Regions from separate parts of the Homo sapiens genome. Here region 2 is linked to region 1. The links come from fine-mapping of genetic effects on gene expression. Tissue or cell type: ileum. Region 1 holds a variant in brackets; the other region holds the start of a gene. All regions are shown on one strand. Distances are between the middles of the regions.

What was found. PIP is the estimated chance that this variant, and not a neighbour inherited with it, causes the effect.
Region 2: MASP1 starts here. The variant in region 1 is fine-mapped to the expression of MASP1 in ileum (GTEx, PIP above 0.99). The same link has a PIP of 0.9 or more in stomach.

What each region holds. Positions count from the first base shown.
Region 1 is chr3:187,260,233-187,268,232 of GRCh38, reverse strand. MASP1 (MBL associated serine protease 1) reads left to right here. Exons shown (of 11, transcript NM_139125.4): 3 at 5,513-5,690; 4 at 7,361-7,492. Among named protein-coding and RNA genes, the nearest start is that of MASP1, 28 kb to the left of the region's middle. The variant C/A (reference allele first, on the strand shown) is at 4,553.
Region 2 is chr3:187,288,459-187,296,458 of GRCh38, reverse strand. MASP1 (MBL associated serine protease 1) reads left to right here and starts at 4,722. Exons shown (of 11, transcript NM_139125.4): 1 at 4,722-4,831. The coding sequence starts at 4,827. It overlaps LOC101929130 (a long non-coding RNA gene), which reads right to left and starts at 5,187. Exons shown (of 2, transcript NR_135551.1): 1 at 4,923-5,187; 2 at 1-233. RefSeq lists an enhancer at 369-945.

The DNA.
Region 1 (8,000 bases):
TGAGATTACAGGTATGAGGCATCACACCTTGCCCATTACATACATTTTTCTACCTTCTAAGTTGCCGCAGACAAGTTTTGCCAATTGATTCACCATTGCATTATTCAAGTGGTCTGTTTTAGACTCCTATAGCAGTCTCTTCACTGTTTTTCTAGAATTTACTTGCTAGCCAATCCTAAAACTGAAGCCACATATTCTAGTTTTTTGTTACTGCAGCATTCTACTTCTGGTATCAATAACTATTTCAGTCAGACTTCAATCAGGAAAGCAAAGTCTTTATGAGTAATGTGAGATAATGAATATTTATGGGTATTAGAACTCGTAATTATAGAAGGAGCTGGGCAAGTAAAAGTTGGAAATGGGGATTTAAAGGATTAGAGAAAAGGTCACCAAGCAGTTCTCTTAAAGCCCTGGCATGGGTGGAAATATTGGCATCTGCAAGGGAATCTGATAAGTCAATTCTACCTAAGGGGCCAAAGTGCAACAATGAAGGGGAGGCTCATGGAAAAGGGTCTCTGAGAAGCTGTTGGCTGTAAGCAGCTACCACCTCTGTGGTTTCACCTGAAAGTATCTGATGATAGGCATGGGCCACTGTTGGTCATCAGAGCCAGTAGTTATAAAGAGCCGGGTGCAGAGTAGAGGAACGTGAGAGCAAGTGAGGATGTGTTGGACACATCTACACATTTCTTTCTCTGTATGTGATTACAAAACAGCCTTCAGTGAGTAATGACTATTGCCTTTCAAACTTGCACAAATTCCTCTTTTGGCCAACTCTAATCTAGAACTATACAGGGAAAGAAAGTCTGGGGAACGTAGCTCCCAGATTAACTAAACTGGCAACAGGGTAATCCAGCATACTCCCTAAATGTCTGCCTAAATTAAGTCTGCAATGCTCCTCAAGGGCCCTGAGCAGATTTCAGAAAGGCTCCAGGAGATAGCTCGGGAACATTGACAAACAAAGTCATGAGGCATTTGGGTTATAAGACAGCCTTTGTTTATTTGCCTAATGTCTTGAGGAGCACTGGCTAGGGAATCAGGATGCTGCAATTGTGGACCTGGATCCACCACTCACTAGATTCATTTATCATGAGATTCATTCACCACTCACTAGATTCACCAGTCACCTTGCCCAATTTGTTCAAATTATCTGGGCTTCAATTTCCTCATCTATAAAAGGAGAGCAATCCCCCCTGGGCTGCTTTCTCTATACATTGCTTTGAGGAGCCAGTTGGTAGCTGTCAATGCATTTGTTTAGCTGATGTAATGAATTTATGGACATGCAGAGAGCAGCCATACATAGCGAGAGTAGCTGTCCTTCCCTAGAGTAGCTGTTCTTCCATAGAGTAGCTGTCTTCCCATAGAGTAGCTGTTCTTCCATAGAGTAGCTGTCCTTCCACAGAAATTTGGCCAATCCCAGCTGCCCTGCCATAGTTTTGCCTAGCAGGTTTGTGCTGTTTCTGCTGAGGTAGAAAACTCATAGAAACCAAAGCCTCTTGGCTTCTCCTTATCAGATGTGCCTTCCCAGCTCTCTGTCCTTAACAGAGCCCCTTTCTGACGCCAGGTAATGGGTAGTGGGGAGGAGCAGCTGAGATTTGAATACCCCAGGCCTTCACTATTTCCTCTCCCTACATACTCTACCCACCCCCTACCCTCCATCTATGATTTCTACCTGCCTACATTCTATTCACGTTTCAGTCTCCAGCTCAAAGATTATTCTCTTCTTCCTAAATGTTTTCTGATTTCCCTCAGCTGGATTCAATCTTTTCCATTCCTTAAACCCCCAGGGCAGCCCATCTTTGATTGCATTTACGATACCCTGAGAATACCCCAACACATATACCTTTGAGTACTTATCTTATTCTTCTACCAAGTGTCACATTCCTAGAGGCAGGGAACTTGCTTATTGAGCTCGTATAACAAATAAATAATTTTTGGCACCCTTCACATTAAAGTGTAGACAGAACTTAGTACACACATATTTGGTGAATTGAGTTGAAAGAAAACAAATTGAGGACATACAGCCACATGTTGGTGTCCTAAATAACAATAGTCTCTAAGGACATAGTCGCCCACAAGAAGAAATAGAAAAATGAAGAGTTTATTATTCGCAGCCACATGGGTCTCCATTATTATGAATGTTTTGTCTTCACTTGATAAGGTCCCTCCATCATGTTGATATGATGACCTCTGAGAGGGGACAGTCCAAATAGAAGCTAGGTCTCAATCTGCCTATACTCAGAGGTAAATGATCTTTATAGAACTCCATATTCCACAGCACAGGATGCAAATATTAACCGGGACCAGTGACCCCTCTGTTTAGGTTATGACTGGAGCTGTCACTGAGCCACATCCTCTCTAAGAGACAGTCCATGCACCCAAGATAAGGTTTCAAGAGGCCTTTGAGCCAGGAAAATTGTTTGGCCAAGTGTCTGTGTCTTTAGTCATGTACTCTCTGGGTTGGTGGGTTCTTTTCTCTCATCTCAGAATAGTTCCCAAAGCAAAACTGATATCAGAAAATGTTCATGTTATCTCTCCAGCCTTGAGCAAGTCACTTCCCCTCTCTTGACCTCTGTTTCCTATAGAAGGAGGCAGATAGAAATAGCTCTTAAAGGTCCCGCCCAGCTCTGATATTCCAGGACTCTATTCTGAGCTGCAGGCTGAATTCCCAGGGCCCCAGGCTACTGGCCTTCTCTTCTCTGCTTCTAAAAGGATGTATGGCTCAAATTTTCCCATGGGCCTCAGCTGGGGCATGCTTCCTGTTCTCTGGAATACTGTGGCTCTGCAGGTGATAACCATTTATCTGATTTATCTGCCATTATGAAAAGGTCCTTCAGCCCAGACGTTACAAGGAGGGAGGTCATTTATCACAGACCCTCAGTAGTATCTCCCTAATCCAAATGACCAGTGTGTTCACTTGAAAATGTTCATGTCCCAGTCACTGCAGAACCCAAGAGGCACTGGGGATACCAAGTTCCAGAAAGAAGCCTGTGTAGCTGGAACTATTAATGCCCAAGGCATGACTATTCATTATTAACAAATTCAAGTTCATCCGCAAGCAGTAATCCTGCATATGTTAAAACTCCTGCTTACCATCTTCTGGTTGGTTTATATAATATATGACTATGATGATTTGTTAGAACTGTGTTAGACTATGATGACTGCTATGTCTGGAATTGGAAAGGAATCTAGAGCTCAGCTAGTCCAAACCCCTGTTTTTACAAGTGGATAACTGAGAGCTAGAAAGGAGATGGCCCAAAATGCAGAATACGGCAGTGTCAGGAACAGGACCCAGGACCTCCAACTGCCAGGTTCCTGTATATCGTATTACTCCAAAGCAGAGGTCACCAAGATGGTGTACTCTAGTTCATGCAGTTACTCACAGAAGAATCCCTTTCCCAGGCCCTCATTCTAAATCTATTTAGCTTTTTTTTATTAAGTTCTAGCAAAAGCAGTTAACTGGTTTCTAATTCACAACATATTAAAAATAAGCAGACAGAAAAGTACAGTGAATAGGCTGATAAAAAGACAGGAAATAAAACATGACATAAAGAAGACTTCAGAAGTTCAAGGCTTTATAGTCCGGCAATGTTTAACGCCAGGTCAAGCGACATTACACAACTCAATATCCCCAAGATTATCACTTTAATATAGTATCACAATGGTTGACATTCATAACAATGTCCCTGGATCACCAAGAAAGGGTTAGCATGTTTCACTTGAGAAAGTGGGTACTTCTTTAAAGTACTTTTTTTTTTTTAAGTGTTACACCAAAAAGAAAATTTTTAGTTATAGTTAGGTAAAGCTTTGGCTATCTGGAAAACTGAGTCAGATAAAATAACACAGCAGCTGGGAGGTTCAAGGAAGTGACATTTCAGCTGTGTGCAGATAGGCACATTCTATAGTAACAAGACTGGTGTGAGTTCGGCTGGTATCTGCAGAGAAGAGGAATAAATAGCAAAGCCATGATCTCATCTTCTGTTTACACTTCAATTCCCAAAGTTAGTGATTAATTGTACTTGCGTTTTGTTGCCAGGGCAAATTGTTTTTCTTTGAAACTCCCACTTATTTTAAATAAATAAACCATTAGTTTCAAAACAGGAGTGTCAAATGTCAAGATATTTCTGACATGCTAAGCTAACGAACAAAACAATGAATTCATTAGAAGCTACTAGAGATAGCCGCCTTTGAGAACTTTTCTCTAATGACTTTGAAAGGCAGCAGGAATCATTCTTGGTAAGAGATTTTTTTCATGCATCTTGGCTAAAATTTGGTCCAGAGGTTGCAAACACAAATACAACTTAAAAGAATTGGATTAGGTATAAGATAATCGAATAGATACGTCAAGAATTTATACTCAAATAAATATACCAACTAGCTATCATACGAAGCTTCCCAAACTCCTGTCTCACATAAAATCAGCTTTAAGCCACCAGTTTAGGATCTCTGCTTGGATCTCTGAATTCGCACAGGGCCTCTGGCTCTTCCAAAGAAGGGAATTCTTTTAGCAAACAGGCATGTTTTTTGCATCTAAGTCTTAACACAAACATGTACA[C/A]ACAGAGATACACACTCAAACTATTTTTGGGTGATTCCAATAAATAGTTTCTGTATTAAGACTGCCTATTAAACATTAGTTTTCATTACATGACTTTCCTGCTTAAAAGTTTTCAGTGTCTTCCACTTACTCACAGAATTAATGGCATTCAAGGTCAACCATAATTTTCTTTCCATGTATCCTTCCAAGTACATCTCCTCCTACAATCCCCACAGACTCCCTGGCTACTCACTGTTCACAGAATGGGGCTTGTACTTTCAGTTCTTGTAAACAAATGTTTATTGGATAACTATTATGTGCCAGGTCCTGTTCCATGCACTGAAGACACATCTATAAAGAAAATAAAGTCCTTCTCTCCTGTAGCTTATATTCTAATGTGGATTGTTTGCCTGCTTTGAGTGCATATGCAGTGCTTCTGCTTGTGTGAAAGCATTTGTCACACTGTGTAATACCTGCCTGTGTCTGTGTTCCTCAATCTCAACACTGCTATTGTGTGCACAGCACTGTGTCTATCTCTCATCACCTCCATCTCATGCTTTGCTCGGCAGTAGGCACACACTGGATACTCAATGAATGACTTATATTGTGTATACAGTTTCCATTCTTTGGAAATGTGGTAAGTTCCTGTTGTGCAGAGAATCTGTCTGCGAGGTTATCTAACTTTTTAAAACTTTCATATTGAGTTATTTTTAATAAATAAGCTGCTTGGTTATTGACAGCAACAACAAATATCAAGCTACTTCTAATGGAACTAAATAAGACGAATGAAACTGATCAGATGTCCACATTGAATTAACTTGTAATGCGTCTTTTCTCAAGAATCCTTAACCTCCTTTCTTTGGGTTTCTCAGGCTGACTAGCCTACTCTTGGGTGGCCCCTTCCTTTTTCTTTCTAAAGATAAGGAAAGAAGCCTAGCTGGGAAACTGCTCATCTTGTTCCCTTTCTCTTTGACCTCAAAGGTAGAAACTGAGGACCAGGTGCTGGCAACCTTCTGTGGCAGGGAGACCACAGACACAGAGCAGACTCCCGGCCAGGAGGTGGTCCTCTCCCCTGGCTCCTTCATGTCCATCACTTTCCGGTCAGATTTCTCCAATGAGGAGCGTTTCACAGGCTTTGATGCCCACTACATGGCTGTGGGTAAGTTGGAGAAGTGACTCATCCTCAGGTCTCTCTCTCTCTCTCCGAAGATGAAAACTGCCTTGTGACCTCTCCTTTACGATGGAAATCTGTGTGTGCACCACATAGATTTTACCATTAATGTCTTAATGCATTTGCTCTATCACGTATCTATCCATCTATCTACCCTCTATCCATCCAGCAATTCATCTTTTACAAAGTGTTTTAACGTAAATTGCAGACATCAGTATACTTCTTCCTAAATAATTCAGCATGCATATTATTTTGCTAGAGTTTCATATTTGTTCACAGCATTTTTTCTTTTTGTGTAAAATTGACATAAAATGGAATATACATATCTCATGTATACATTTGTTGAATTTTGAAAAATCTGTATTTGTGTGTAACCCAAACCTCTAACAAGACACTGAACTTTACCACCAGCCCAGGGGGTTCCTTTGTGTCCCTGCCAGTCAATCTCTGCTCCCACTTCCCTTAGAGGAAACAACTGTTTTGATTTTTTTTCTGCTGTAGATTAGTTCTTGCCTCTTCTAAAACTTCATTTAAATGAAAACATACAGAATACATTTTGGGGGTGAGGATTCTTTTACTCAGCATAATGTTTTTGAAGTTAATTCATGTGTCGCATGCATCAGTAATTTGCTCCTTTTCCTGGCAGAGTAATTTTCCATTGTATGAATATACTAAAGTATGTTTACTCATTCTCTTATTGACGGCTACTTGGAATCTCCCCATTTTTTAGCTCTCACTAACAAAGTTTTTATGAACCTTCTTGTGCAAGTCTTCTTGCAAACATATGTTTTCAATTCTATTGAGTAAATATGTAAGAGAAGAATTGCTGAGTCATAGGATAGGTATACGTTTAGCTTTATGAGACATTGCCAGACCTTTTCCAAAGCAAATGTAACATTTTTTATCTGTCCACCAATGTATGAGAGTTCTGGCTGCTCCACATCTAAACCAACATTAGATGTTGTCAATTTTTAAAAATTTTAATCACTCTGGTGAGTATGTAGTGGTACCTCATTGTGGTTTAAACTGCATTCCCTTAATGACTAGCAATGTTGAACATCTTTTCATGTGCTTGTTGGCCATTGGTTTATCCCTTTTGGGGAAATGTACATTCAAATGCCTAGGACAGGGCTTGACCCACATTAGGGGCAGAAAGAAAGAAAGAGGTAGCATGAGGTAGAAGTTAAGAGCACAAGCTCTGTACCCAGCTTGTCTGTATTTAAATCCTGGGTCTGCCACTTATTATCTGTGTGATTCTAAGTTTGTTAATGCCTCTATGTCGCCATTTCATCCTCCATAGAATGTGACTAGTAACAGAATGCATAGTAACAAATGTGTAATTCTTCCTGAGGTTGTTGTCCCACACACAGTTATTATTATAACTGTTAGAGGATAGTGGTCCCACCAGAAGTCAAGTTACCTGGGTTTGAACTTGGCTTTTTGTGACCTTGGGTAAGTTGCCTAACCTCTCTGAGTTCCAGTTTCCTAGTCTGTAAAGTGAAGATAATGGCTACCTCTGGGCTGTATGAGAGGATTAAATGAGAGAACGCATGAATCTCCTAACATAGTGAGTGGCCCATATCAAGTGCTCTATAAATGTTGGCTGTAGTCTTCATCATCATGCATGTATTGATGGAGAGGCTTTACCTGCCCTACAGATGTGGACGAGTGCAAGGAGAGGGAGGACGAGGAGCTGTCCTGTGACCACTACTGCCACAACTACATTGGCGGCTACTACTGCTCCTGCCGCTTCGGCTACATCCTCCACACAGACAACAGGACCTGCCGAGGTAGAGCCTACCAATGATTGTATGCATTGCCCTTATAGGCCACATCCTCAATAACATTAGATGAGGCTCAGAGAAAGACAGATATGCAATAGGAACAAGTAAAAATGAAGTCAATGATGCACCTCAGACACCACATGGATGAAGATGCAGAAATGCCCACCCAGCCTGGAAACCTGATCTTGGGTTCCCAAAGGAGAGAAGCTCTAGACTATTTGGCCATCTTTCTTTCTGGGGCAGCATTTTTCACTATACAGGTTGCTGTCTCCTATCCTATTGTAGGCAATTGGTCTGGTCAAGTTAGGGGAAAACTTGGGTTTCCCAGTTCCTTCTCTTTGAGCCACGAATTATGCTTTACCCAGCAACTCCTTTTCTCTTCTTTTCCATGGCCCCTAAGTTCCTCTACAATAGAGAGACCTCAGTCCAAAGCAAAGAAGTGAGAGAGGAAAGAGGCAAACAGAAACAGCCAGAAAACTTCCCATTCCTTCTATCTATCTTTGTTTTCATCTAT
Region 2 (8,000 bases), 28 kb before region 1:
CACATATATAGACCACAAATCTGGTGGAAGCAATACTGGTGATTGAACTGCAACAATACTGCCCATCATGCACATAATCGTTTTTGAACCAGTTAGTAACTTCGCTGGCTTCTTCAGGCAAATGTGGCTTTAATTCATTAAAAGCTCCTGGAATGCCATCAGCTGGAATGAATGCCAATACTGAAGTTTTTGTCATTGCTGTATCACGTGACCAGTCCACTCATCTGAAGTTTCTGCCAAACACATTGGACAGAATGGAAAAAAACAAACTTTATTGGTAATACCTTGAAGTTCACCTTTAGAAACCTCAATCACACCTAATTCCAAATCTGTCTTTATGGTTTGAGGATTCAATTGAAATCCATTTTCCTCTGCATAAAGACAGTGACAAAGTAAAGAGTTCCACCTAATATGATGCAACTATCTTGTGATTTTGATTTTGGGGATTTTAGATGTTAGGGATTTAGACTTTAGAGGTTTTGACTTTTTGGAATTTCCATATTTGGGATTATAGATTTCAGGCTTGTGTCTTTCGGGACTATAAACAAAAACTGTCCGAGATGGAGGTGTTGGCAGATTTGGTTTCTTTTGTGGCTTTTATCCTTGGCCTGCAGGTGGCCATCTTCACCCTACGTCTTCACATGGTCTTCCCTCTGTGTGTGTCTGTGTCTTAATGTCCTCTTATAAAGACACCAATTGTATTGGATTAGGGCCCATTCTAAGGATCCCATTTTAACTTAAACACCTCATTAAAAGCCCTTTTTCCAAACACAGTCACCTTCTGAAGTACTGAGGGTTAGAAATTCAACATATGCATTTGAGGGGAATGTAATTCAGCCCATAACAGAGCCTAATCATTTATTTTTTTAAATAGAAGCTATTTTTTGTCTTCTGTAAAATCTTGTAATCACATGACAGCATGGCACATGAATGTTCAGAGTCCACAAGAAGCACGAGAAATTTGCAGACGACAGGGAAGAGCTTTGCACTTGAGATCAGGGGGCCCTGGGCTCTAGACATACATCATTCACTTACAGGCACGGGCAGGCTTAGTTTCTCTGAACCTCAATGTCTTTACTTGTAAAAAAAGATGTGAATACTATATGCAATAATATATATAAAAGTATCTGGCATATACAAATGACATCTTATCAAATCAAAGGTGCCATCAATTATAAAATGTATCATTATGTTATTTGTACCAAAAGTGGCAAAATCATGCCAGGGGAGATTTTCAAATTACAGATTCAGGAGACTTACCCACAGATTCATTGGGTTTGAATCTCCTGGGATGAAGCTCAAAGATTGTCATTTTTTAAAAATATTTTCCCCATTATTCTGTTGATAGACTCAGAAGCCAGGACTTTCGGCATGCTGTCAGTCAATGTGCTGAAGAACCCAGATTTTCATTCTAAGCTGCCATCTTTGGAGCTATTTATCAGTTTCTCAAATATTCTGTAGGAAGCCTGGATTTCAGCCCTTACCAACAAAAAGTCATTGCCCAAATTCTTTACGTTTTCTAACCCATTCATTGAATTCCAGAAGCTCTAGCTCAAAAGTTGCATAAAATAAATACTTTGGTAGAACATGTAAACCAAAACCTCTTCCAGTGGTAGGAATATTGCCGCATTTACCCTTAGTAGGCAGCTCTCTGATCCCTTTCCCGGACTACAGGACTATAGTGCGCGGGTGCTGAGCCCACCTCAGTCATTCTACGCTTTCATGATTCTAAATGATGTCAGTTCCTTGTATGCATTTTTTAATCGCTTTTGCCAAACTCAAAAAACTAGTTGAACCTTTTTAAATATTACTTTTTCTGAATATCTGTGATTAAATTCTTAGTATCAGTAATATTATGAGCACAGAAAAAGCCAATGTCAAGATTATTAGAGCTATTTTGGACTCCTTGACAATCTTTTAGGTCTAGCAAACTACCTAACCCCCTCCCAACGACATCATTTCATAGTCTTCATATCCACATGTTGATATCTATGATCTCAACTGAGTCCCACCCCCTGATTTCATAATTGAACACACTGATGCCCCACCCCTCCACCCCTCAACCCCCACCCCTGAGAAAGTAAGTGACTTACCCAAGGTCACATGCAAGCTGGCCTATAGTCACTGAGCCCAGTTCTGTTTCCAGCCTAATGTCCCTTCCATTCCTCCCACCCCTGATGACCCATGATCTCTTAGTGACACTTCAGGGAGATTCATCAAAAGCATCAGACAATATGTAGTGTAACCAAGTAGAAAACTGTCCTGAATCACATGCAGATCATTCCTGGGCCACGTAGTTCCTGTTTTTATGCAGATTTCCTCTGAGCCTTGGCTAACTCCCAGGGAAGCGCACATATCAGATCTGCTATATATTGGCAGAACTTTGGCTTAGAACACATCTCGAATGCTTTCCATTGAACATTGGCAGCCTTGAAGAAACATGGCTAGAAAATTATTCCAGGAGGCCTAATTGCTCTGTGACACTTTCCAAGGAGAAGCTGATGGCTTTCTCGCCCAAGCTCTTCCCTCTGTACCCAGAACAAATGACTGCAGTTCCCAGTATATGCCCTAAATTAGGAGAGGGCAAACTCCGTGGCAGCATGAATTGAGGGAATGTCTTTACTGGGCAGGGGCCCTCTTCCCAGCACAGTGTGCATTTTGCCAAGCTCTTTCTCCTTCAGTTTTAAAACCCTTGTGTATTCCAAGAGAAATGTCGTCCATGTGTTTCTGATTCATTTACACGTAAATCATTAAAATGTTGTTTTGTGAGAGTTATTTAATGTGTGCGGAGCCTGTGAGTCTTCTTAACGGGAATGTTAAAAGCTTTTTTTCCTGTGCTGACTGAGACAGAACACATTTTGCTAAAACAGTGCCTGAGTTCAAACATATCCTCCCATCTCATATACTTGTACCTGCTTTATCAACCACAGCCTCTTGATAATGCCAAGCTTGGCAAGGCTGGCATTCAAAAGTGTGAAAATTAGAGAAACTGGAGAGAAAATGGAGTAAGAAGTACAGTGAGAGTCAAGCCACTGTTCCCCAGAACGTGCCAAAGGAACGTTATCTGAGGGTAGACAGTGCATGTGTCTGCCGCTTTGGTGAGTGTGGCTGGCAGCCCTCTCTCTGGTACTCCCCTGGACACTTCTACAAGCACAGTCTTATTTAAGCCTCATAGTAACTCCCATTTTCCAAATGAAGACACAGAATCAGATACCTTAAGTATTGTGCCCAAAGTACACAGCTGTCTTGGGTAGAAAGGAAAGATTACAGCTAAACTCTGAGTCTAATCTTCTTTTCAAAATGACTCAGATTGAGTTTCTCTATGAATGCCGTCTGTGTGTGTGCATTTGAAATTCCATATGCATTATAAAATGTTAATGAGTAGCAGTGTAATACAGTGGCTAACACTTCAAATTCTGCCTCTATTACTTTCTAGCTGTGTGAACTTGGGAAAGTTACTTAACCTCTCTGGGCAATTTCCTCTGAAAAATGAGAATATTGCCAGCCATGTATACAACATATAAAGATGACTGAAAAGAATTCATATATTAAGTGCTTAGAGCAGTGCCTGACACGTAGCACTCAATAGCTGTTAGCTTCTAGTGCTAGTGGCAGTGGGGAGTCATAAATAACTGGATGATCTTGGCAAGTGGCATATTCTCTCTGAGCCTTAGTGTCCTCACTTGTAAAATGAGTATAACAGCAGCACTTTCACCAGTTTGCAAAAGTAACTTGAGATGATGTTAATGACTAGTACTGTGTCTAACACAGAAAAGGTGCACAGTCAAACTTAACTTTTACACCCAGATACACCTCTCCCTATTCAGTGTTGGTTGTTGTTGTTGTGGAGGGGGTAATTTTCTTATTATTCAGCTCATCTTAGATCTAGTGTTGATTTCTCCGGAAGCCATGGGTATAGACATATATACAGGCCCAGGTCTTTCTACACCCCTGGGGAGGTGAGATTTCTTGCTGCGATGGGCCCTTTCTGGGCTGGAGTAGAGCCGCACACACTCCGAGCAAGTAAACAGTGCCACAGGTATTGCTCATGGGGAGGAACAACCAGCCAACTTCAGGACTTGGTGCTTCCCCAGTTCCGGGCCCGTGGCTCTGTTCACAGGAAAACCTGTCGTTGTGTGTGACTCTGATCACGAGAAAACCTGTAGTTATTTGGGGCTCTGCTCACAAGGAAACCTGTAGTTATTTGCAGACAGACGCTCTGGGATTTAGACCTTTTTTTTTTCTTCTAGTGTAGGTGCTAGAATTGCCTTCTTAGTTGGTTGTTTCTATTTAATTGCTTTTCTTTCATGGGTGTCCTGAAGAAAAGCAGAAAATTATAGTCATCTGGCAAAAAAGACTAAAGAGAAATTAGACTTTGTCCCCTTTCACTCTCTCTCTCTCTCTCTCTCTACACACACACACACACACACACACACACACACAGAGTGATACAAATACCTGCTTGAGCCCCTCAGTTATTTTCTCTCAAGGGCTGAAGTCAGCCACACAGGATAAAGGAGGGAAGGGAAGGAGCAGATCTTTTCGGTAGGAAGACAGATTTTGTTGTCAGGTTCCTGGGAGTGCAAGAGCAAGTCAAAGGAGAGAGAGAGGAGAGAGGAAAAGCCAGAGGGAGAGAGGGGGAGAGGGGATCTGTTGCAGGCAGGGGAAGGCGTGACCTGAATGGAGAATGCCAGCCAATTCCAGAGACACACAGGGACCTCAGAACAAAGATAAGGCATCACGGACACCACACCGGGCACGAGCTCACAGGCAAGTCAAGCTGGGAGGACCAAGGCCGGGCAGCCGGGAGCACCCAAGGCAGGAAAATGAGGTACGTGCCAGGGGAGGAGAGGGCACGGTTCCCTTTTGGGGACCAGTGTCAAATAGCAGGGAAGGTCTGACCTTGTCACTGACAGACTCACCTGCGTGTCCTGCATGTGGTAGTGAGGGGCTTTCTCATCAATTCTTAGGGCTCTGAGAAGGGAGCTGTGGGTGGGCTGGGTGCCTTCCCCAGGACTCCAGGAGACATAAAACTTGAAACGGGAGACTTCGTGCAAATCCTGCTCCGGACGCTGCTGAAGCTCAGATTTCTCCCACTGCCTGCACAGGGTGCTGCCTGCTGGCGAATGTGACTCTCCTCCTGTTCACCCACAAGGCTGATTTTTCCGTGTTCCTCCTCTGGAAAGAGCATTGCTTTCTCTCTTCCAGCACTTTGTGAGTTAGATATGTGTTTGTGTGTTCATTCCTTCTGACCAGAAAAGAAACCAGCTTCCCATAGCTTGGCTCTGTGGTTTCTTCAACCTTTACAAGTTTGCCAGTTAAACCTCAATTTAGAAAACTAAAAATCTGTCCCCATTTTACAGTTCCCTATAAATTTTCTGCATTTCTCATTGAAATCAGAGGCAGCTGGTGGCATGAATCAGGCTATGAAGTACACCAAATGGCTCTTAAAGAGATATCATACTTAAAAAAAAAAAAAGGATTTTAGAGTTCTGAAATCAAGAACTTCAAATTCTAATTGGTTTTAAACTCTTTAACCTTTCTTATTCCTCATTATACTTGACACTCCTTACCAGACCTTTCATACAAGTTCTATCCTGCAAGTCTGAAAACCCAACCACCCTAGTTATTTTTATTAGTTAAGTGTTAATGCTGTTACACACACACACACACACACACACACACACAATGCTCTGCAGATGTGTAAGTCCCTAAACACATCTTTTACTATTAATTTTCTTTTCACTTGGGAAAGTGTTTTTATTTGTTTCTCTTCTGCAAAGTAACCTAGCAACTTTTCTGGACCTGAGACCAATGAGAGGCTTCAGACTATGTTAACTCTTTGAACTCCGATTACCTGTGGTTCAGAGAGATAACCAGGTCCTTAAAAAGTGAGTGCAATAATTCTGTTCTTCTTAAAGCCATAGTAATTTTAAACCTGCCATTAAACATCATTTTTCTTTCTCCAAAAAAAAGTGATTTATGTCAATCTACATTGAATGATAATCTCATTTATCTGTCAATGATCTGGTCTGAATCCCACCCTACCATTCAGTGCCCCAGCCCATATCAAACTACTTGGCTGAGTAACAATTCTGTATCTTTGCATATGCTCATCCCTCAACCTGGAGCAACCTTCTTCTTTATTTTCCACCTAGAAGACCTGATTGTTCAAGCTGGCACAAATATCTCTTTCTCTCTCCTGACCACCATATTCCAGAGTGAGCATCCCCTCCTTTGTCCTTTGTTCTGTTTCTGTCCCTTGAAGCTGCATCTCTTATTGTCCTTGTAGTATCCCCTTGTTTAAATGTCCACCTCCCCTTACAAGTCTCAGCACTCCTTAAGTTACATGATCTATGTCTTCATCTTTGTATGGCCAGCACCTAGCATAATGTCTATTTCCTACCAGCCATTCAATACCTATTTGTTGAATTGAATTCAATTTTTGAATAGCCAAGCAACTACGAGAAAGGTGCTCTGCTAGAAAAGTCTCCAGCAGGTCTTGTCTCACATGGATACAGTATTTCAGTGTTTGCAGAGCACTTTCAAGAGCACTGTCTCATGGGGGTTTCAGATTCTGGATGAAGTAAGGATTTATGGATAAGTAGTGGGTATAAAAGCAGTTAAGCAACTTGCCCAAACCACACTGATGATCATGAAAAGGTCCAGATTCAAATTTGGGTCTTCGGGCTCCAAGTTCAGGATTTTTTCTACTATATTCCACTAGACTTTCAGCCAAGTGTATTATTCTAAACTGACGGCTCATAATTCTGACTGTACGTCGGAATGATCTGTGCTGCCTTGAAACATGCCAGTGCTCAGGCCTCACCCCAGAGCAATTAAACCAGAACCTCCTGAGGAGGGACTTTGGCATTAATATTTTTAAATTTTTTACGTAAAGCCATGGGTTTTTCAATTATTTTTCACAGGATTAATTGCTTTGGCCAGATGCCTGGGCATGATATGGGCATGGACCCAGCTTCTTCTGTGAGCTCTTTTTATTCCCTTCTTCTGTTGAAGTTAATTCACCATATGGTATTGAGCATGATGTGACATCTCTTGGGGTATCCTTTTCATCGTCTGTCAAATTAGGGTGCTCTGTAAAGGATCCATGCAGTCCCTTCCAACTCTTCAATTCAAAAATGGAGTCTTGGTGTGGAGTGGGTTGAAACAAGGGGCGTGTACGGACAGTGTATGGAAAAGATAGCAAGTGCCGTTCATGCCGCAATCATAGATATATGCAGGCATTTTTACAGAGTCCTGCTAGCCTGTTCCTACGGGGGGCCTCTGAAATCTCAGCTCTATATATTACTTTTGACATTTCTGCAATGTAGCTAAACTTTTTGATTAGCCGGAGGATAGATAGCAGGTGTTGGGAACTATACAGCCGGTGCCTCGTATACAAGAAGCCAAAAACATTCAGAGAGTGTGACGAGGAATGAAAGCTGCCACTTATATTCTTCAATTTACAGCCCCTAACGCAAGCAGGCAAGCATATGCTCAAGCCCATTACATGAAGGGAGATATTTGTTTCATATGTTTGAAACCGTTTTGAGATGCAAACAAAGTAGAAGGGAAAGCTTCCTGGGCCTTCCTCCCACGCTGACCAGTTGCCTACCACACATGGCACCGGGCTTCTGGGCTACACAGGGCTGTCTGCTGCCAGTCCTTGACAGAACCGGCCTCAGGAGGCTCAGTGTCTCCTCGATGTGGTCTGGAAAAAGCAGTCATGGAGGAAGTTGACCTTTCGGCCTTGCATAATTTGGGTGTCGCTATTATAGGGAAGTCCGGTTTAGGAGCCAAAGCTCATTCCTGACTCTTGCTTTTTGGGAACTGGCAGGATGGAATAATTATAACTAATGTTTGGCTAGGGCTGGACAGTTAACAAAATACTTCCCCATCCTCCTTTACGCTGATAGCAGTGCTGTGGGAAGTCGTTATTATTACTACTTAATGGATGAGGAAACAAGACCTCCCATGACCTCCTAAAATGGAAAGGA